Regions from separate parts of the Homo sapiens genome. Here regions 2, 3 and 4 are each linked to region 1. Evidence: fine-mapped expression QTL. A gene starts in region 1. Each other region holds a variant in brackets. All regions are shown on one strand. Distances are from middle to middle.

The links. PIP is the estimated chance that this variant, and not a neighbour inherited with it, causes the effect. A credible set is the group of variants that fine-mapping cannot tell apart.
Region 2: its variant is the best candidate, but not a certain one, in a credible set for the expression of HIF1A in whole blood (INTERVAL, PIP 0.83).
Region 3: its variant is the best candidate, but not a certain one, in a credible set for the expression of HIF1A in whole blood (INTERVAL, PIP 0.54).
Region 4: its variant is the best candidate, but not a certain one, in a credible set for the expression of HIF1A in whole blood (TOPMed, PIP 0.87).

The regions. Positions count from the first base shown.
Region 1 is chr14:61,693,091-61,698,241 of GRCh38, reverse strand. HIF1A (hypoxia inducible factor 1 subunit alpha) reads right to left here and starts at 2,729. Exons shown (of 15, transcript NM_001530.4): 1 at 2,403-2,729. The coding sequence starts at 2,437. It overlaps HIF1A-AS1 (HIF1A antisense RNA 1), which reads left to right and starts at 2,419. Exons shown (of 2, transcript NR_047116.1): 1 at 2,419-2,535. RefSeq lists silencers at 2,271-2,370, 2,671-2,970 and an enhancer at 3,041-3,410.
Region 2 is chr14:61,670,346-61,675,496 of GRCh38, reverse strand. No RefSeq gene overlaps it. Among named protein-coding and RNA genes, the nearest start is that of HIF1A, 23 kb to the left of the region's middle. RefSeq lists an enhancer at 4,021-4,100. The variant C/G (reference allele first, on the strand shown) is at 2,638.
Region 3 is chr14:61,489,642-61,494,792 of GRCh38, reverse strand. All of the region lies in intron 10 of PRKCH (protein kinase C eta), which reads right to left. Among named protein-coding and RNA genes, the nearest start is that of PRKCH-AS2, 53 kb to the left of the region's middle. The variant G/A (reference allele first, on the strand shown) is at 2,129.
Region 4 is chr14:61,498,434-61,503,584 of GRCh38, reverse strand. All of the region lies in intron 10 of PRKCH (protein kinase C eta), which reads right to left. Among named protein-coding and RNA genes, the nearest start is that of PRKCH-AS2, 44 kb to the left of the region's middle. The variant G/A (reference allele first, on the strand shown) is at 2,185.

The sequences.
Region 1 (5,151 bases):
AAGTTTGCTAATAAATGAGAGAGCTTCTTGACTTTTAATGGCCAAAGTTAATGAAGGAAATTAAGGAATATCTATTCTCAGAAATTTTACTTTAATGATTCAGTAATTATTTGTTTTGGAAAACTCTGAAGGAGTCTGGCCTGAAGCCTGAAACAGAATCATTACTCTCTTGACATTCCCTTAAAAATCTAAAAATCAAAATGCACGTGCTATTAAATAAGTTCAGCCCCTATAACTAGGAACAACATGAAATGTCCTGCGTTAAATCTACAGTATCATAACCATACCCATTTTCTATTCTGATTTCTTCCAATTCTTCAGGTTTTGAGTTTCCTAGACCTTCTTTTAAAAAGACAAATTTGTTTTCCAAACTCCGACATTGGGAGCTCATTTAAAATGAAAAAAAAAATTGCTTGAAGAAAATCTCCGTCCCTCAACCTCTCAGTTATCTTTCAAAAAACTGTAAATTAGTTAGAAAAGGTCATCTATTATAAACAGCATCTAAAAGTGCTGAGTAACCACCACTTATTAAGTGTTTAACTTAATTTTTCAGTTATATCAAGAACTTCTATACTAAGAAATATGAATCCATCCAATCCAAGGTTGCCAAGTTTTCAAATGAGAAAATTTTGAAAGTAACAGATGGGCTGAGGAAAATCTAAGAGCTTATTTAGAATTGGGGCTGATGAACAGTAGCTAATTTATTAATTCGTTTCAAAACTGCTTCTGATATTCTGAACGGATGAATGGCAAAACAATGAGTTCGATACTGTATATAAAAAAAGTGGTACATAATTTAATGCATTGTATTAAGTATGATTCAATATATAATAAGGATAGAAAACTGGCACTACACAGAGGTAATCTGCCTTAGGTTTACAATATAGCAGCTTTATCATTTCATCAAAAGCACTGTAATCACCTCCGCAAAATAAACTGCAATTAATTCCTGGTAACTCTTGGAATTAATCTAGACCTGTTTGCTCACTTTTTGAATTTTATAAGTGACCTTCTCTGCTGTATACAAACTAAGAATTTAATATTCTATTGAAGAAGGACCAGGAGAAGGGATCTACAAAACAGCAGGAATATAAACAAGTTTATCTTCTGCTGATACTGATTAGGGAAATTAATCTCTCTGCCAGAAGAGTGGAAGGATTTAACAGCAAAGCCAGTCTACTAACCAAAACTCTTACTCTAAATCTTCAATTCCTTAAGTGATTTCCTTAAAAGTTAAAATGCCAAAGTGGGCAAAATTGTGTGTGTGTTGGGGGATGGGGGAGTCCGCTCTTAACACCACTGGTCCAACTCACAATTCTTAATCTCTAATGTACCCCTTAGACTCAAACTTCAAGGTGATTTATAAAACTTGCATTAAGTTCTAACCGAGTGATTACTTACTTTAGATATATGTTGACGGTTTTCCTTTAATATACTTCAATTTCAGGAAAATGAGACAGAGTTCGAAAATTTTTGCAACATTTTAGTGCCGCATTTCATTCACTCATCATATACTTTTTTCAGTATCATTAAAACTGCCTAAATTTAACCAGCCCCTACATTTTCATTATTTGAAGAATGAATGAGGCATATATTCATTTATAATATCTGCGTTCTCGTGACAGGTGATATGAACTCAAGTATCCAATTCTGAAGTTCTCTTTAAAATGTTGCCATTTCCCTAAATTCCCATTACTCTGACTCTCAGTCTAGGCAAGTTTTTCAAGGCGATTAAAACGAAACAAAACCTGCACGTGCAAACTAAAAAGTTCGCATCTTAAGGCCATCGCGGCAAATCCCTAATGCACAAAGGCAAAGACACCCGCGACGGCTGGACAACTACAGGACAAGATCGCATCCGACCACGCGAGTCCCTCAGTCGGGAACTCAAGGCCCCAAGTCCACTGGAAAGCCAGGACCAGCGTGCAGGGTCCGCCCCAGGGCCGAGTTTTCAATGGAACTGGAGAGGATGGGGGCGGGAAGGAGCGGAAGCTCCGGGTGCAAACCGCGGCTACCGAGCTGCAGCTCATTTCTCTTCCCGGGGTTTTCAGGCTGGGTAAAGTCCCCTCCGGATGGGGCCACAGAGCAGGCTGGGTTTTTGAGGCGGGTAGGTGGGCGGCGCGAGGCCCCCACGGCCGGCGGGGAGGGCAAGCAGGGCTCAGACCCCGGCCCCTGAAAGCACTTTCGAGGCGTCTCCCACCCCCCACGACAAGATGGCGACGTGGACAGCGGGGGAGCCCGGCCGGCGAGGTTGGGGGAAGAGAGGGGAGGGGAGCAGCAGCAGAAACAAAAAGGCTGCCCCCCCCAATCCCATTAACGCCGAGGCCGGCCCAGGAGCCCAGGGCGGGCAGGCGGGCGGGGTCGCCGGGGGAGAAGGCGGCGGGCCGAGGGAATGGGCTTACTTTTTCTTGTCGTTCGCGCCGCCGGCGCCCTCCATGGTGAATCGGTCCCCGCGATGTCTTCACGGCGGGCGGCCCCCAGGCTCGCTCCGGCCTAAGCGCTGGCTCCCTCCACACGCGGAGAAGAGAAGGAAAGGCAAGTCCAGAGGTGGGGGTGCGAGGCGGGAAACCCCTCGTGAGACTAGAGAGAAGCGGGCGGCAATCGCCGGGGTCCGGGCCCGGCTCCGAGCCTCTCCTCAGGTGGCTTGTCAGGGCCCAGCCCGACACACTGGCCGAAGCGACGAAGAGGGTGATCCTCCTGTCCCCTCAGACGAGGCAGCACTGTGCACTGAGGAGCTGAGGCAGCGTCAGGGGGCGGGCAAGGGCGGAGGCGCGCTCGGGCGCGCGGGGAGGGGAGAGGGGGCGGGAGCGCGCCCGCTCGCCTGCCCAGGCCGGCGCGCGCTCCCGCAAGCCCGCCTCACCTGAGGTGGAGGCGGGTTCCTCGAGATCCAATGGCGAGCGACGCAGGCGGCAAGTCCCCACCCCAGCCCACGCCGCTCTCAGCCAATCAGGAGGCGGTCAGCTGAGGCACAGCTGGGACGGGCTGCGACGCTCACGTGCTCGTCTGTGTTTAGCGGCGGAGGAAAGAGAAAGGAGATGGGGGTGCGGCTCAGCCCGAGTCTGGGGACTCTGCGCCTTCTCCGAAGGAAGGCGGTGCCCGGCTTTGGGAGGCGCTGCTGAGAAGGGATTTCGGTTGCCTGGTCCCAAACATGCATCATATTTTCCTACTCTTGGTGCAGTAATGTAATGCTCCTGCTCTCTTTCTCCTCGGCCTCAGTGCTGGGCACGATTGCCGCCCAACTCTGCTGGGCTCTCTGTTCAAAAAAGCAGACTTCGCCTCGTGGCAGCAAGCCCTTCCTTTGGTCTCGTTGCTCAGATGTGTTACAACGGGGTCTTTCCTTACCAGATTACCTAACCATGGGTCAATGTCACCCACCGCACTCTTTGCCACGGAGCACAGGGGAACTCACCTTGTCTACTAAGTTTTTCTGTGGCGGAGTTTACTTACTGAATAAATGCAATTAAAAATAAAAATGAACTCCTGTTGCTGTAAACTTCAAGGGAAATAAAGTTGCAGGGAAATCTTAAAATCTGAAACTATGTTAAGCATTTGCAAATAGGTATAAATGACTTTAATAAGCATATAAACCAATTTCAGGGAAAGAGTAGAAAAAATGGCCTTTGGCAACTTTGCAAGCTACTAAACAAAACATAATCACTTTTGTCTTTGGAGGCATAAACTTCAAGCCTGTCAGTCTTCTAAAAGAAAAATATGTTTTGAGCCCAACAAAGTAGCATTGCACATATATCTCCACTTGGCGCTAAATTATTTTACTTCTCACCTTTGCCTTATGAGTTTCTTGTTAAAACCTAGCTTTGGGTTGTAAATATAAATATCTGTAGTGGCTTTCAATTGTATTAGCATGTAAAAACAATGGTCTATATAGAAGCATCAAACTCTGACAAGACAACAACCAATGTATACAGCACCTCTTTTTAACTGGTCAGTAGACCTACAAAGATACGATTAAACATTGACCTTAGCGGACAGGGTGGTTCCAGCTACTCAGAGGTGTGAGGCTGGAGAAGCCTGGGTGTTCCAGCCTAGGGAACGTAGCGAGACTCCGTCTCTTTAGAAAATTTTTGATCTTCACGCTACTTTTGTTTTTTCAGATCTACAACACTAAATGATATGTATTATGTCTTGAAAAGAACCATGGGAAATGCCTGAAGAGAAGAAAGAACTAAAAATAATTACTCATAATTTCTTTTTTAATTGTGGAAAGAATACTGTAAATTAAAAACTTTTTAGTTTAACATTCTCAAGATACTGTGTTAAGAACACTGGCTCCAGAATCAAGCGTGAGCTTGTACACAGGCTTTGAATCTTACTGGCAAGTCGTTTAATCTCTCCATAACTCAGTTTACTTATTTATAAAATGGATATAAAAGTGTCTATACCACAGTATTATGGATGGTTAAATGAGATAATAAATGTATACTTAGAACAATATCTGGTGCATAGTAAGCACTCAGTAAATGTTAGCTCTTAGTATTGTTGGTGGCGTTATTATTATTATCATTATTATTATTCTGAGGCGGAGTCTCGCTCTGGCCCACAGGCTGGAGCGCAGTGGCGCGATTTCGGCTCACTGCAACTCCGCCTCCCAGGTACAAGTGATTCTCCTGCCTCAGCCTCCCAAGTAGCTGGGATTACAGGCACGCACCACCACACTCGGATAATTTTTCTATTTTTAGTAGAGACGAGGTTTCACCATGTTGGCCAGGCTGCTCTCGAACTCCTGACCTCAGGTGGTCCGCTCGCCTCGGGTTCCCAAAGTGCTGGGATTACAGGCATGAGCCACAGTGCCTGGCCTATCATCATTATTATTGCCCTCAAATTTATTCCTCTGTTAACAGTAATTACTCGGGCTTCTCCTACAGTTTAGCCATTTTTAACTATCCAAGAATACCAATTATGTTAATATAAATCCACATATATTCTCTATTTTCAACTTTGGAACTGCCCATCGTGTTCCCACCCTCATTTATGAGGATAGCTGCAGAGATCTTCCATCATTTCCCTTTTCATTATACTTATAGCAATTATCTCTGGCCAGTGATTATAGTATATAATGTTTGTGACATCAAAAGACAAGCATTTTGTAACAGTAAATCTAAGTCATTTAAAATTTTTTTGGATCATTTCAAA
Region 2 (5,151 bases), 23 kb after region 1:
AGGCTTTGGTGAATTCTGTGGTGCTCCACAGAATCTCTTCAGGGTTGGCTCATCTAACCCCAGCTGCTGGGAATATTAACTGATAGCTTGCAGCTGTGTCTCTCTCTGCCCTTTGCCGTAGAAAACGACCATGCCAAACTCTATCTCCACTGCGATGGGGTGACCTGCAAACAAAGCCTAGCTCATGTGCAGGTACAAACACATAGCCAGATTACCTCAATCTGAGACAACTCAGAAGGGCCATCTCCATTCCAGAGCTGCCTGCCGGATTGGCTAAAGTCTCAGTTGCAAATGCACCGGGGACTGGCTTCTCCCTCTGCCCAATATTGTCTTCCTTTCCTCTTTGCAAATATATCTCCTTAGAGATCTCTCCAATAAATCTTTGGCATGCAACTTTGGGTTTCAAGTATGTTTCCAGGAAAGCCAATTGCAGAAACTACACTAGAAAATAATTAAAAAATTCCCCAACAAACCAACCGTAGTAACCTGGTTACCACCAGCTGCAACCAGGTGGTTAAAGTGGCAAACTTTTATGTTTATTACAGCAGTATTTACAATAGCAAAGACTTGGAACCAACAGAAATGCCCATCAATGATAGACTGGATAAAGAAAATGTGACCTATATACTCCATGGAATACTGTGCAGCCATAAAAAAGAATGAGTTCATGTCCTTTGCAGGGACATGGATGAAGCTGGAAACCATTATCCTCAGCAAACTAACACAAGAACAGAAAACCAAACACGCATGTTCTTACTCGTAAGTGGGAATTGAACAATGAGAACACATGAACACAGGGAGGGGAACATCACAGACTGGGGCCCGTCGGAAGACGGGGGGAAAGGAACGGGAGAGCATTAGGACAAATACCTAATATATGTGGGGCTTAAAACCTAGATGACGGGTTGATAAGTGCAGCAAACCACCATGGCACGTGTATACCTATGTAACAAACCTACAAGTTCTGCACATATATCCCAGAACTTAAAGTAAAATAAAAATTTAAAAATGGCAAACTTTGCATATGACATTATTATTGTTAACTTCAGGTAAAATAAATTTTTGTTGTTGTTGTTATTGTTTTATTTGAGATGGAGTCTCACAATGTCACCCAGGCAGGAGTGCAGCGGTGTGATCTCTGCTCACTGCAACTTCCACCTTCTGGGTTCAAGCAATTCTCTTGCCTCAGCCTCCTGAGTAGTTGAGATTACAGAAGCGCAACACCACGCCCGGCTAATTTTTTTTTTTGTCTTTTTAGTAGAGATGGGGTTTCACTGTGTTGGCCAGGCTGGTCTTGAACTCCTGACCTGGTGATCCGCCTGCCTCAGCCTCCCAAAGTGTTGGGATTACAGGCATGAGCCCCCGCACCTGGCCAATAAATGTTTACTGATTCAATCATGTCTTAATAAGTCTCTTTTGTTTTTAAAAAATGTGGTTTGCCTGAACAAGCACAACAAATATTTATAGTACAGTAGCAGAGATTTGCAGAAAAGTGTAAGTATTTATCACTAAGTAGAAAGTTGATGGAATTTTAGGGGAAAATAGGGTGAGGAGGTGGAGGTGAAAGGGCAGAAATTATCTGTTCTTTCTTCTGTTTATTTCATTTATTTTGTTTTAAAAATAAAAGCTTTGGTCGCTTATGGCTGAAAGTATTCGTTGTGTAAGTCCTGTTAAAAAAAAAGAGAGAGAGGATCTCCCTAGACTTATAGTAGTCTTAAAACAATGTTGTCATTAAACACTTTTGCTAATTTTTAGATTTAAGGCTTATAGGTTCATTATTCCTTCTCATAGAATGAGCTTTTCAACTTTCTACCTCACAATTATTCGTACAATATAATTTATAGAAGAGACTGACCTAAACCCAATCTGACTTAAATTATATTCTGTGGTATTTTGGAGGGAGATTACTGAAAGTCACATCGATGGATTCTTAGCCCAGGGAAACTGTATGGCGTCCTAAGTGGAAGCTGTGTTAATTCAGGAAATTCTTTGAATACTTCTTAAGAAAACATCCTCAAAAACACTGCTCTGAGACAAGAGCCTCCAGCACAACGCAAAGGTGCCCTAAAGGCCCCATCACACAGTAATCACAAGAATTGATAAGTGCTTTGGTTTGCAGATGAGAATTTTTAGGCATAGGAAGGTGTGACATAATAAAAATATATATATATTCGGTCTCTGCTTTTGTTCCTGGCACAGAGGTCCTGAAACCCTTGTAATTTCATGAGCCATTGGGGTGCTACATGCATCTTTTGTTCTAATATTTGGTCATTGACCCCGGTTCCTGACACAGAACTTCTAATCTCTTGGAATTCCTGGGTCATAGGAGCATCTTTTGCTCTAACAAGGTGGCACTCGGCAGGCTCCTGGGTGGGGACTGGCCACCAGAAAGACCAAGCCATGATTTGAAACTTGGAACTTTCAGCCCCACCTTCCATCTTTTTGGAAGGAAACAGGGGCTGGAGATTGAGTTAATAATTAATCACGCTTATGTGATGAAGCCTCCGTAAAAACTACGGGCCAGGTGCAGTGGCTTGTGCCTGCAATCCCAGCACTGTGGGAGGCTAAGGTGGGCAGATCCCTTAAGCCCGGGAGTTTGAGACCAGGTCTAGCTAAAAATACGAAAATTAGCTAGGC[C/G]TGGTGGTGCACGCCTGTAGTCCTTGCTACCTGGGAGGCTGAGGTGGAAGGATCACTTGGTCCAGGAGGTTGAGGCTACAGTGAGCCAAGATCACACCACTGCACTCCAGCCTGGGTGACAGAGTAAGACCCTATCTCAAAAAAAAAAAAAAAAAAAAAAGAAAAACTGAACTATGGAGTTTGGAGAGCTTCAGGGTTGGTGAACACATCCACATGATGATAGGGTGGCACACCCAAAGTCCACAGGGACAGATGCTCCTGTGCTTGAGACCCTTCTGAACCTTGCCCTACATGTCTTGTCATCTGGCTGTCCATTTGTGTGTGTGCGTGTGTGTGTGTGTGTGTGTGTATTTTTTTTTTTCTTTTTTTTTTCTTTTGAGACAGAGTCTTACTCTGTCGCCCAGGCTGGAGTGCAGTGGCATGATCTCAGCTCACTGCAACCTCCGCCTCCCGGGTTCAAGCGATTCTTGTGCCCCAGCCTCCTGAGTAGCTGGTGTGGGATATGATGAGGTTTCTCTTCAAATAGTCTGATCAATCTTTTATTCTTTAATTCATAGTACCCTCCCCCCCCCCCACTTTTTTTCTCCTTTTTTCCTTTGTTAGATGCCCAGGCACGCCACAGTACCAGGCGTTACCAGTACCAGCTCACATTCCTTTCCTTATTTGGAAAGAGGACTAACTTTCTAGCTCATTACAGACACCCCTTCCCCTTCCTCTCCACTTTCTTTTACGTGCCCACCTTATCTAAAAAAATCAAATGTTTAGCCAACCGGAATTAGTTTAGATTGTACAACCCGACCCCGGCCAATGGGGAAAGGGTACAGGGGCAGGACTGACTTGCGTCAGGAATAAAGGCTCTCGTGCCCCTTTGTTCAGGTGTGCTCTCATGGCAACTGGCCGAGGAGGCACCCCTCTGCGCAGAAGTAAAATTGTTTGGCTAGGAATTCTTTGTTCGAGTGTTCAATTTCCTTAGGATTTGAGCGATATTTCTAACACTGGGGTTACAGGCGTGCACCACCATGCCCGGCTAATTTTTGTATTTTTAGTAGAGACGGAGTTTCGCCATGATGGCCAGGCTGGTCTCATGATGGTCACTCCTGGCCTCAAGTGATCTGCCAGCCTCAGCCTCCCAAAGTGCTGGGATTACAGGCCTGGCAACTGCACCCGGCCTCCATTTGTATATTTCAAAACATCCTTTGAAATAATAGGCAGTAGTAAGTAAACTGTTTTCCTGGGTTCTGTTAGCCACTACTGCCAATTATTGAACCTGAGGAGGAAGTCAAAGGAACCTCCAATTTTTAGCCAAGTTGGACAGAAGCTGTGGGCAATCTGGAGACCTCTACTTGTGATTGGCATCTGAAGTGGGGGGCAGTCTTATGAGACTGAGCCCTTAACCTATGGGATCTGACACTATTTCCAGGTAAGTAGTGTCAGAATTGAGTTAAATTGAGTTAAATTCTCTGACACCAGCTGGTGTCAGAGAATTGGCTGGTGTGGGGAAAACCCCACACATTTTGGTCACAGAAGTGTTCTGTAAAAGTGTGAGTATAGAGACGAAAAACTGTTTTCATTTTCCCTTACATGTGGTGTCAGAAATAGAGTTTTGAGAGTACAGTAGAAGAAAACAGTTTTTTTCCTATTGTATAAAAGGATGTCTGTTTCTGGCAAAACGTTGTGAACTCTGTCAGCCGGAAGTTTCTATCAACTAGCACTTCCTCTCACACTTCTTTAAGCAGATTGTACTGTAATTATAATTGATATTTGTAAAAACAATCCACAGGCAATGAAAACATTAAAGAAAGATTAAATTATGCTGCATATAGTCTAGTGTAGTATTAATTACATTTTACCCTACAGTTCTCCAATCCCATGAAAATCGGTAAACTTGCACGGTATATATGGAAATTTTATTACCCGGGTGGTTCCGTCCTCTTTTCTTGCTGTTTGGGTTGTCCCCTTCCCGTTCCTATCAGCAACTGTCCTTTCCAACATTTCATATAGAAACTGGAGGCAGTTGGACAAGAACTCACTTGACTTCCTGCATTCCTCTTGACAAATGTACCTGCATCTGCTCCCATCCTTATCTCTTTCGCTCTAGGAAGAGATGTCTCTCCTGCTGCCAGCAGCTTATCTCTGCTCTCTGCTCTTGTCTCCCTATCTTCAAGGACCCAGAACTATCATTGATCTCCTCTCTCACCTGTATTATCAAAACTCCACCCTGATTCTTTCCCCTTTAGCGTACAAACAGGCTCAGATGGCTCCCATCTTAAAGAGAGGCTTTCGATTGCACTGTCCCCTCTAGGTATCATTTTTTTTTTTTCTTTTTTGGAGACAGTCTCATCCTGTCCTCTAGGCTGGAGTGCAGTGGTGTGATCATGGCTCACTGCAGCCTCGAATTCCTGGGCTAAAGAGATCCTCTCACCTCAGCCTCCTGAATAGCTGGGGCTGGGATTACAGGTATGAGCTACCTCACCCAGTCTCTCTCACTTAATACTGCCTTCCCTTCACAACTAA
Region 3 (5,151 bases), 200 kb after region 1:
CAAGCTAAAACTCCAATTTCTATGAAGAATTACCTGTTATTCAGGCAGTGTCTTGAGAATAATTGCTGCCTATGCCTATGGATACCAAGAAAACCCAAATCAGGTGACAGCACATATGCAAAGATAACCTCTTATATTGACACGGCATGTTCCAAAAAGCATTCGCATTTCCACTTCCATCTGATTTGAGTTTTACAAGGACCCTGCTGGGAAGCTGTGTCAATGGCACCTCCACTGTACAGATGGGCCAAAGGGCTAGGGGCATTCAGCAACCTGCCCACATCCCCAGGACCAGGGCTGGGTCTAGCATGCAGGGCTTCTGAAAACCATGTCCAGCATTCTTTCAGTAGGAAGAATATATGTAGCGTCACACACATACTCTAAAGTAAGTGATCTTTTTCTATACTTTTATGGAATTATATTTTTAATACACTGGCACTTTGGGGATACTTACTCTAAATGATGAACATACCAATTGTTTCTATAACCCTGGAGCCAAATTTAGGCAGATTTCTAATGGAGTCTGGTTCCCCAGGGTTCTGTCCTTGACTCACACTGTTCCATTTAAGAGACTCCTATTGGGTGATCTCATTCAGTCTCGTGGTCTCAACTAATAGCTATGTCCTGATGACTTCCAAATATTTAATTCAGCCCATCCTCTTTACTGAGCTTCAGACTCCTATGCCCCTATCCATGGAGCATCTCCACTGGAGTATACCTCAGGCACCTGTCATACAACCTTTCTAAAACTTCTTCCTCTTTTGCCTAGACTTCTTCCTAGGCACATGATCTCTCCTAGCTAATGGCACTGCCATCCACTCAACCTTCTAGCTAAACACCTGGAAATGATTTCCGGTTTCTTTTTTACCCTGAATCCACCCAAATACTAAGTCCTATCAGCTTTACTTGCTATTATCTCTTATGCCTTTCTCATCAGCCCTACCATCACTGTCTTAGTTCAGGTCCTCATTATCTTGTTACTTGGAACTCTGCAACTGCCTCAAAATGAACCTCTCCCTTGCAACCTGGCTGCTGCTTACCATGGGTATGTCCACACATGCCATGCCCCCCACCCGCACGTAAAAGTAAAATATAAATCCACTCATGTCATAAGACCTGCTGAGAATTCTTCAAAGGTTACCTGCTCCATAAAGCCCAGACTCCCTGGCATGGAATTTGTGTCTGACACTGCAAGTTTTCTATCAAATAATGATTCTTTCCCTTCTTAATAATGGAATGCTGATTTTTAGCTGGAACATGGCCACTTGTAATACTGTATTTCTTGGCTTTCACTGGAGCTAGACTCAGCCATATGATCAAGTTCTGGCCAATTCCATGGTAAGTACTGTGTGGAATTCCAGGAGGCCCCTTAAAGGGAGCTGACTCAGTTTGGAGGAATGCCCTCTAGCCCTTCTTACTACATGGAATTGGAATAGAGAGATGATTCCTAGATCTTCAGCAACCATTTAGACAAGGACGTGACCCTGTCTACAGCAGAACAGAAAGCACAGAAATCTGGGTTGCAAATGACTCCACGGAGCTTCCATGGCGGGGCTGGACTACCTACCTCCAGGCTTTTCATGTGAGAGAGCACTATGTTTCCATCTGGCTTAAGCCACTGTCATTTTTATGTTTCCTGTGATAGGCAATGGAGCAAAGTCCTAAGTGACCCAGAATTCAAACATCTCAAGAACAGTAAGTGCTTAATACTTCATTTCTGCAGCCTCCTCTAGCCTTCCCTCTTCCCATGCCTCCAACTTCAGGCTCCAGTGCTACCAAAGTTCCTGTCATTTTCCACTTTAACTACACATTCACCACACTTCTCTGCTTTGCTCAAACTTGCTCCCCTACCTAAACACCCTCCTTATCTTTGTTCAGCTTTTAACTCTTCACACTCAGCTCAGGCATCACCTCCTCCAGGAAGTTTGCCTGAACATCCATCTTAGGGCAAGTGGCCATTCTGTCTGCTCCCAAGATACCCTGGGAAAACTCCAATTTTGGAACCCAGCTGCCATGACTTATTAATGGCTATCTCTCTCACCCCACAGAAAGCGCCTCAAAGGGCAGACATCTCATCTACTCATCTTGTATCTACACCTCCTAATGCAACATCCGGCACTAGGTGGCA[G/A]CTCAGGAAATATGTTCTGATCTCAACTGGATTTTTCTCACTGCAATGGAGTAAACAGGGTTGAATGCCTCAAAATGTCTTGGTTTGCTCTTCATGCCAGCTGTAAGTTGAAGACTGAAACAAAATTTTCTAGCCATATTTTTGTTTTCCTGGAGATGGAAAGCAAACAGCAGATGAGTCATCCGAAGAGAATATCCACTATGAGAAACAATTTTTGGACGTTTCACACCTGAAGTCCCTCATCTGTAAAAGATAACTTGGCCCTTAGCAACGTTTGAGGTCTCCTCTGGCTCTAATATTTTATAAACCCATTGTTGAGTATAAATGCACAGACCTGGACACAGAGAACTCACTGTGAATAGATGGCTCCTCCAGGGATTGGCAACATGACCGGCCTTACCTAACCTTCAAATAAATTATTTACAAGGAGTGTTTAATAAAATCTTGAAGTCATCAGCTGACTGAACACTGTAGGATAATAAAATGCCAAGTGAAGTAAGATACGCTTCCTAGACTCCAGCCAGGCTGGCCTGCTCTAAAAACCCCTGACCTTGCCACACTCCTTCCTGTTACTGGGCATCTATCTGCGTTTGCTGTTTCTTCTGTCTCAAATGTTCCTTCCTTCCCTCTTTACCGTGACCTCAGCCCAAGAGTCACTTCCTTATAAAAATCTTCCATCTTTCCCTAACTGGATAGAATCACCCTATTCTAGGTTCTCATTCACTGCATTGTATTTCTCCTCTTCATAGCACTAGTCATGGTTGCTACTTTTTATTGGTATAATCATTTGATTGACATCTTTCTCCCTCACTGGATCATACCCTCCACTGGCGAGTATTTTTGTTTTTGCTCATACCATTACATCCATATCCTTGGCAGAAGGGTGACGCTCAACAAATACTTGTTAAAAGATCTCCAGAGGCCATGCAAGGGTGCAGAACAGTGGCTGATGAGTTTCACTACGGGAAAAGGGAAGACCCCATTTGAGGGAAATGCTGAGCTACTCTAAGAAGCTGGAAAGCTCTGAGCTCTCCATCATATCCTTGAAGAAGGATCTTGGAAGTCAGGAATGGTGGTCACTTTCTGGTGAGAGTTGAAGAGCAGTCACTGAATGAGGCCACCATGGCACAGCAAGGCATGACAAGCTAAGTAAGAGAAGAGACAAGCACATGACTAAAAAGCTCAAAGAGCCAGTATCAGTCCCAGGTGAGGGCTCACAGCCAAAGTCTGATGTGAAAGTTACTAATATACTGAGCATTCCCATGGCTGGCATGTACTGAATAAACAAGGACTATACAAACAACAAATGACAATTTGTAGTAGTCTCTGCAGTACGCAAATCAAGAGAGAAGAGACCTACTTCTTGCAGCAGAAGGAATAATGCCAGCAGATGACAAAGGGAAAAGAGAGCTGTTAAATTTTACTTTCATCTTTATCTAAAAAGATTTTCCTCACTAGAATGAGTAGAATGAATATAAATACAGAACTGAATTCCAATAGAGGTGAGGTGACAGTAAGAGCCCAAAACTCCAGGCTCAAATGAAAGACATCTGGGGACTCAAAGTCTGCTGATAAGAAATACTGAGGAGTAAGAGAGGTCCTAGGAGGTGGGAATCAGAGAGAGATTGCCACAGTTTTCCAGAGGGGAAGAACTGCAGGGAGAGAGAGAGAGTGCACAGTAACTCAGGCATGTAAAATCCATCACTGGCCCAAGACACCATTTTTTTTTGTTTGTTTTTGTTTTTTTGAGACAGGGTCTCACTCTGTCACCCAGGTTGGAGTACAGTGGTGCAATTTTGGCTCACTGCAACCTACACCTCCCGTGCTCAAGTGATCCTCCCATCTCAGCCTCCCGAGTAGCTGGGACTACACAGGTGTGCACTACACCATGCCCACCTAATTTTTGTATTTTTTATAGAGACAGGGTCTCCTTATGTTGCCTACGCTGGTCTTGAACCCCTAGACTCAACAGATCTGCCCACCTTGGCCTCACAAAATGCTGGGATTACAGGCATAGGCCACTGTGCCTGGCCCCAACACACAAATTCATTTGGAAACGGATCACTTGTGAATTCTTAGACCAGGAAGTGGTGCTCACAGAGGAGACCACTTGCCAAGCAAGGCTATGCCCAGCTGAGTTATCTGGAGTCAGCGAGGCACCTGTGGACCCTCATGATTCTTGAGAAACAAGAGCTAGATGATGTTGGTGATCGGTATATTCACACAGATCCCCCAACTATGTTCAGAGACTAGCTTAACAGGGCTTAATCTTGCGAGTGAGATTGCTACTCTTCCCAAATTCTGAATTTTTAAAAGAGTCAAATTAAGTAGACATTTTTCTCTCAATCTGAGGAGAAATCAGCAGCTCAAAGTTGAAAAGTTCATGTGCCACGTAATCATGGGAGTAAAAGGCGGCATGTCAGAGTTGGCAGTGAGCCTCTGTGGGGCAAAAGCTTCCTCTGTGGGCCACATCTGCAAAATGGGATGGCGAAATACCACGGGAAGCATTTGGAGCTTTCAGGGTAAACACTAATTACCGTGCACCCAGCATGCCAACAGCTGCATAAGGCACAAAGCAGTCAGACTCATGAGTCGAAAAGCATGTGTTGGAAAGTGCTGTGTGCCCAGGGGTAACATGGTGAGGAGGAAGTGAAATTTAAACTGTGCCCTTCTATAAACTATTCCTCACCCAACATATTTCAGATACAGTATTCCACACTTTGTCAAAAACAGCCAATCAAATGTGTGCTGGCTGGCTTCAGGAGTTTGGGGTTGAAATGTCAATGACAGCTGAGTTTCCCTTTAATACAGTTGATGAAACATGCTGAAAGATGTCTGGTCAATGGGATGCATGCCCCTTTGTTTCCCTTACTTTTCTGTAGGGCTTGACTCCGGAAAAAAGTCAACACCATGAGTAAATTATTCATGAGCACTGTCTGGCCTTCCAATCGGCCAAGAAGCCCAGGACAAAAGAATGAATAGTCTTCTTTTTTTCCCCTTGGGAGAACTGACTTGATGACTGC
Region 4 (5,151 bases), 190 kb after region 1:
ATACACACTTCATATTTTACATTCTGAAACCCCAAGGAATAAGCTGTTGAGAACAGAGTCCTATTTCTTAAATGGCAGTTGAACAGATACAACGCTCAAGCTCTGTTGAGCGTGGCTTAGTATTTGCATAGGCAGAAACAGACAAAGACTGCACAGATTCTGCCAGTCTGTGGGCACCTTCCCGGCATATGTGGCAGACCTCAGTTAACTTTTCTCACTTATTTCTGTTTGGTTGTTTTTTAACCTTCTGAATTACTCAACCAGATTCTTACAGGAAAAAAAAAAAAAAAACCACTAACACACATACAAATCAGTCACAGGGAAACTCAGTTACGGCCTCTGACGGGTTTGAACCTGTCTATTTGCAAATGAGAAAACAAAATTTCAGTGTTCTTTAGGCCAAAATAGTATCTACCCTGCTCCTTGGTGCAGCAATAAAATGGACAGCCCCACAGTAATCAGATTTTGGGTTTGCTTTTGTCAAAATTTTCCTCCTCAGTTTTGTAAGTTGATTTCACCGCCACAGTATATTTTTCTCAATTCCACCTTCTGTGTAGGAGTCAAAAAAAAAAAAAAAAAAAAAGCCTGCTTCCCTTCCTCTCTTACATTCATTCCTTTCCTTCAAGAACCAACCCAAGAGCCACACATCCCCCAGGAAGGGCTCGAAAGGGTGAATTCCATGACTCAGTGTCACCTGCCTTCCTCTGCTGCTCGGCCCCATTTCTTTGTCAAAGGAGTGTTAAAATCCTCACTCGGTGAACTTGGGAAAGGCAAGCTTCTAGCTGCTTGGATTAAAGACTGAATACCCCCTCTTGCTTCATTTGCAAGATTTGGGGCTGCTCCCATCTGTTCTTAGAGGGCAGGAGCTCATTTTTAATTTTTTCTCTCTTGACATTATTTGGGACAGCGCCCATAGAGAAAGGTGTTTGAGAACTCCCTGGTGAATAAGCAGTCCACTCTGTACAACAGAAGGCACTCTATAACCACGGTAGAAGTATGTGCTGCTACTCTTTAATCCAGTTATAAATAATGACTGGTGCAACTGCTCTACCTGGAGCAGTAGTGCTGGAAAGAAATCTTTCTTTGTAGCTTGTAACTGCAATAAACGTTTATAAGCCTGTTGCCTGATCTGAAAAAACCAGCACTTTCTCCAACAAGAGATAGCAGAATTATTTCCAGGACTTGAACTGTCACCCATAGACCCTTCTGATAAAAGAAAAGATTGAATGGGCATGGTGGCTCATGTCTGTAATCCCAGCACTTTGGAAGGCTGGGGTGTGCGGATCACGAGGTCAGGAGTTTGCGACCAGCCTGGCCAACATAGTGACACCCGTCTCTACTAAAAATACAAAAATTAGCCGGGTGTGGTGGCATGTGCTATAGTCCCAGCTACTCAAGAGGCTGAGGTAGGAGAATCACTTGAACCTGGGAGGTGGAGGTTGCAGTGAGTGAAGACCATGCCATTGCACTCCTGCCTGAGTGAGAGTGAGACTCCATCTCGGAAAAAAAAAAAAAAAAAGAAAAGAAAAGAAAAGAAAAGAAAAGATTGCCTACCTACTACCTTTCTTTAAGGATTTAGATTTCATCTCTCTAAAGACTTAGGAAAAAATCTCTGTTCTTCAGGTAGATAATATACCACCATTTGTTTTTCAACAGGAGACATTCAAATGCAGAGCTTGCATATGCATAGACCATTTCTGGAAGGACATATAAGGACATGTCTTGAGGAAGAGGAATTGAGAGACTGGGGACAAGGGTATGAAGAGGATTTAGCATTCACTGTAATCATTTTAGAACAGCTAAAAGTGTCCTTTTTATGTATATGCATTAATTTACATTTTAAAATTAAATTAAAGTGACACTGCTCTTTAGTCAATAAATGATACTGTGTTTCCACCCATCTTCTCATCACTTACTCCCCACCATGAATTCCTGCAGACAAATGTTGGCTCAGTTGCTAGAAATAAAACAGAAATGAAGACAAGAAAAAAGAAATATTGCCATGCCCTGTGCCAGAAATTGAGGGATAACAAATGAAATGAACAAAAAAGAGCTCAAGATGCAAGCCCTTATGTAGCCATGACAAATGAGGAAACGTACGAGACTCTTGGTGTAGCTTTCGCTACTGCTTTTTTTTTTAATGGGATTAAAATGAGCACACATCTCTCTTTTTTTCATTTATTT[G/A]TCTATCAGGGACAAACCATCCAGGTCAATATATGTAGATCTAATGTATTCTTTCTTTTAATTGTTGCATAATATTCCACAGTACGGGTATAACCATAATTTATTCAACAATTTCCTTATGGAATCTGTCTTTCAAGTAAATTCATTGTTTAATTTCCTTCCCTGGATCACTTTTCTTCTTAACAACTGATAATGTATATGGAGGATTTGCTGATGTCAGACACTGGAATAAGCAAGCCACATGAATTAATTTTCACTGTAACTCCATGGAATGGATAGTACTGTTATCCTCATGTAGATTAAGAAACGGAGGCTTAGAGAATTAAAGAGTTGGTACAATATCACAGAATTACAGTACATTGTGGGGGTAAGTTTTAAATCTAAGTTTGACTTCAAAGCCTCGTTCTTAACTGTAAGCCAATACTGTCTCATTTTCATGCTGTTCCATGCAATCAACCTGAGTCTGTGGCCAGTCTTAAACATTATCCTGGTATTTCCAACTTTGAGATGGACCATTTGAAGGAGTTCCATAGGTACCTCTATTTTGACATACCCAAAGGTGATTTTCTTGTCTCCCCCATCCCACCCCCGTGCTCAGCCCATGTTTCATCTTTGGTAATTCACCCTTGAGCAAGTCACAGATTGATTTGAGAGGAAAATATCCACCTTTGCAGAGTGGGCTGTGCACAGAGATCCTCAGTTCTGGGATTTATGACTACCTTCTCTATTTTCATGTGCACATACAGGCTGAAGCTATACTCTCAAATGGATGCAGGAATTAAATTCCTGAGATCCTTACAACAGGAAAATTTAAATATCCTTTTTTGAGATCACCACACCAATTAACTTTCCACCGTGCTTGCTACTCTATAGTCAGCATCAACAATATCCAGTTAAAGACCAAGGATGGGCATGGTGGTTCAAGCTGTAATTCCAGCACTTTAGGAGGCCACAGTGGGAGGGTTGCTTGAGCCCAGGAGTTTGAGACCAGCCTGGGCAACATAGCGAGACCCCATCTCTAAAAATATTACAAAAATTAGCTGGGTGTGCTGGTACACACTTGTAGTCCCAGATACTTGGGAGGCTGAGGTGGGAGGATGGTTTGAGCCCAGGAGCTCTAGGCTGCAGTGAGCTGCACCGCTGCACTCCAGCCTGGGCAACAGAGGGAGACCGTGTCTCAAAAAAAAAGACCAAGTCTTACCCAAAAGAAGTAACATGAGCTATAATAACATAACTCAGTTCAGTTAGCCAACTGCTAGTTCAGATAGTTCTGATTTCGTAAGAGAAGAACGTGACAAGTCAACCGGATATTGATCCAAGTATCTAGAATGCCTAATAACATGGATGGTTTATGGATTACTGAGAAATCAGTAATCCTGAAGAAACAGCCAGAACGAGCGACTATCAGGCTAATAGTATTTCCTTTGTTAACAGGTAAACTAGATTGGGAGACCCAGACTGCCTTCACATATCTCCACAGCTTTCTTGTAAGAGAGCTGTATTTTTTTTTTTAAGTCTACCCCTTATAGGTGGTCCAGAACCAGTGAACTGAAGCTACTGGGAAACAATGTTTGAGTCAACAGAAAGGCGAAATTTCCAAAAGCCGTACATCCCTGAAAGTGGAGGAAGTATAAGTTCCTCTTTGCTTATAGGTGTTTAAGTACGGAAAAAAATGACTGCTCGGCAGATGTTGGATATTCATGCTTTGAAAGAAGAAGGGTATATAACTTTGAACTCCATTCCAGCTTTGAGATTCTAGAATTTTGTCAGCGGAACACAGTAAATTTTGACGCAAATGCCAAGAACAGGGTAGAGCAGCAATTCTGTACGTGAAAGCACAGGCTTACATGGCTACTCTGGAGGCCAGAGGAGCAGTGAAAAGGGAGGAGCAAGATGTGAGGGGCCAGGCAGTCAAAGCGCCACCTTCCCATTGCTGCACCAGCCACACACCTAGCAAACCAGACACCCCCAGGACACTGTTCTCCAGGGTGTGGGGTAGTTTGCCTGTTAGGTTTCACTAACTTCTCTTTGCAACTGAACTGAGAAATTCATCATGTGTGAGCATTTTCACCAAAAAGCAACAGAGCACTTGTACCACTTCACATTTCTACTTACAAAGTTTACAGAAAAGTACAATTTGACATTTGCAAGACAAAGGAAAAAATTCCCCTTTCAGGGACATGCTGCAAACTATTTATCAAAAGGTACACTCTAAAACCACAGTGTACTCAGCTTTTTTTCCTGCCAGGCTTAAGTACTGGGATCTAGGAGAAGGATTTGGTCTCAACACACCTCAAAATAGAGCTCCAAGCCTAACATGCATGGCTTAATGAGCCAAACGCATGACAACGCCTCGGTCTAATCCTTGGTTATTCTCTCGTGCCTGTCTACTGTGTGTTCCACTGTAGCAGGAGCTGTTTTCCTTAGGGCTGAAATCATTTCCGGGTAGATTTGGCACTATCAAACCAAGTAGCTGCAAAACATGTTGCTTAATGTAACTGAAAACCCCAAACACGTGTATGAATGAATGGCTGTAATGGACTGAATGTTTTGTGTCCTGCCAGAATTCATATATTGAAGCCCTAAGCTCTAATGTGATAGCATTTGGAGGTAGGGCCTTTGGGAGATAATTGGGGCTAGGTGAGGCCACAAAGGTGAGGTCTCATGATGGAATTTGTGACCTTATAACAAGAGACACCAGAAAGCCTGTGCTCTCTCCATCCCCTCACCGCATGAGAACACAGCAAGATGGCAGCCACCTTAAAGCCAGGAAGAGAGCCCTCATGAGGAACCAAATTGGCCAGCACCCAGATCTTGGAATTCCCAGTCTCCAGAGCTGTGAGAAATACATTTCTGTTCAAGGAATCCAGTCTGTGGTATTTATTATGGCAGCAGACTAAGCAGTACTGAGCAGACTAAGACAATGGCTTTGTGACTTCTGTAGAACTGGGTTTCACAGACAAGGAG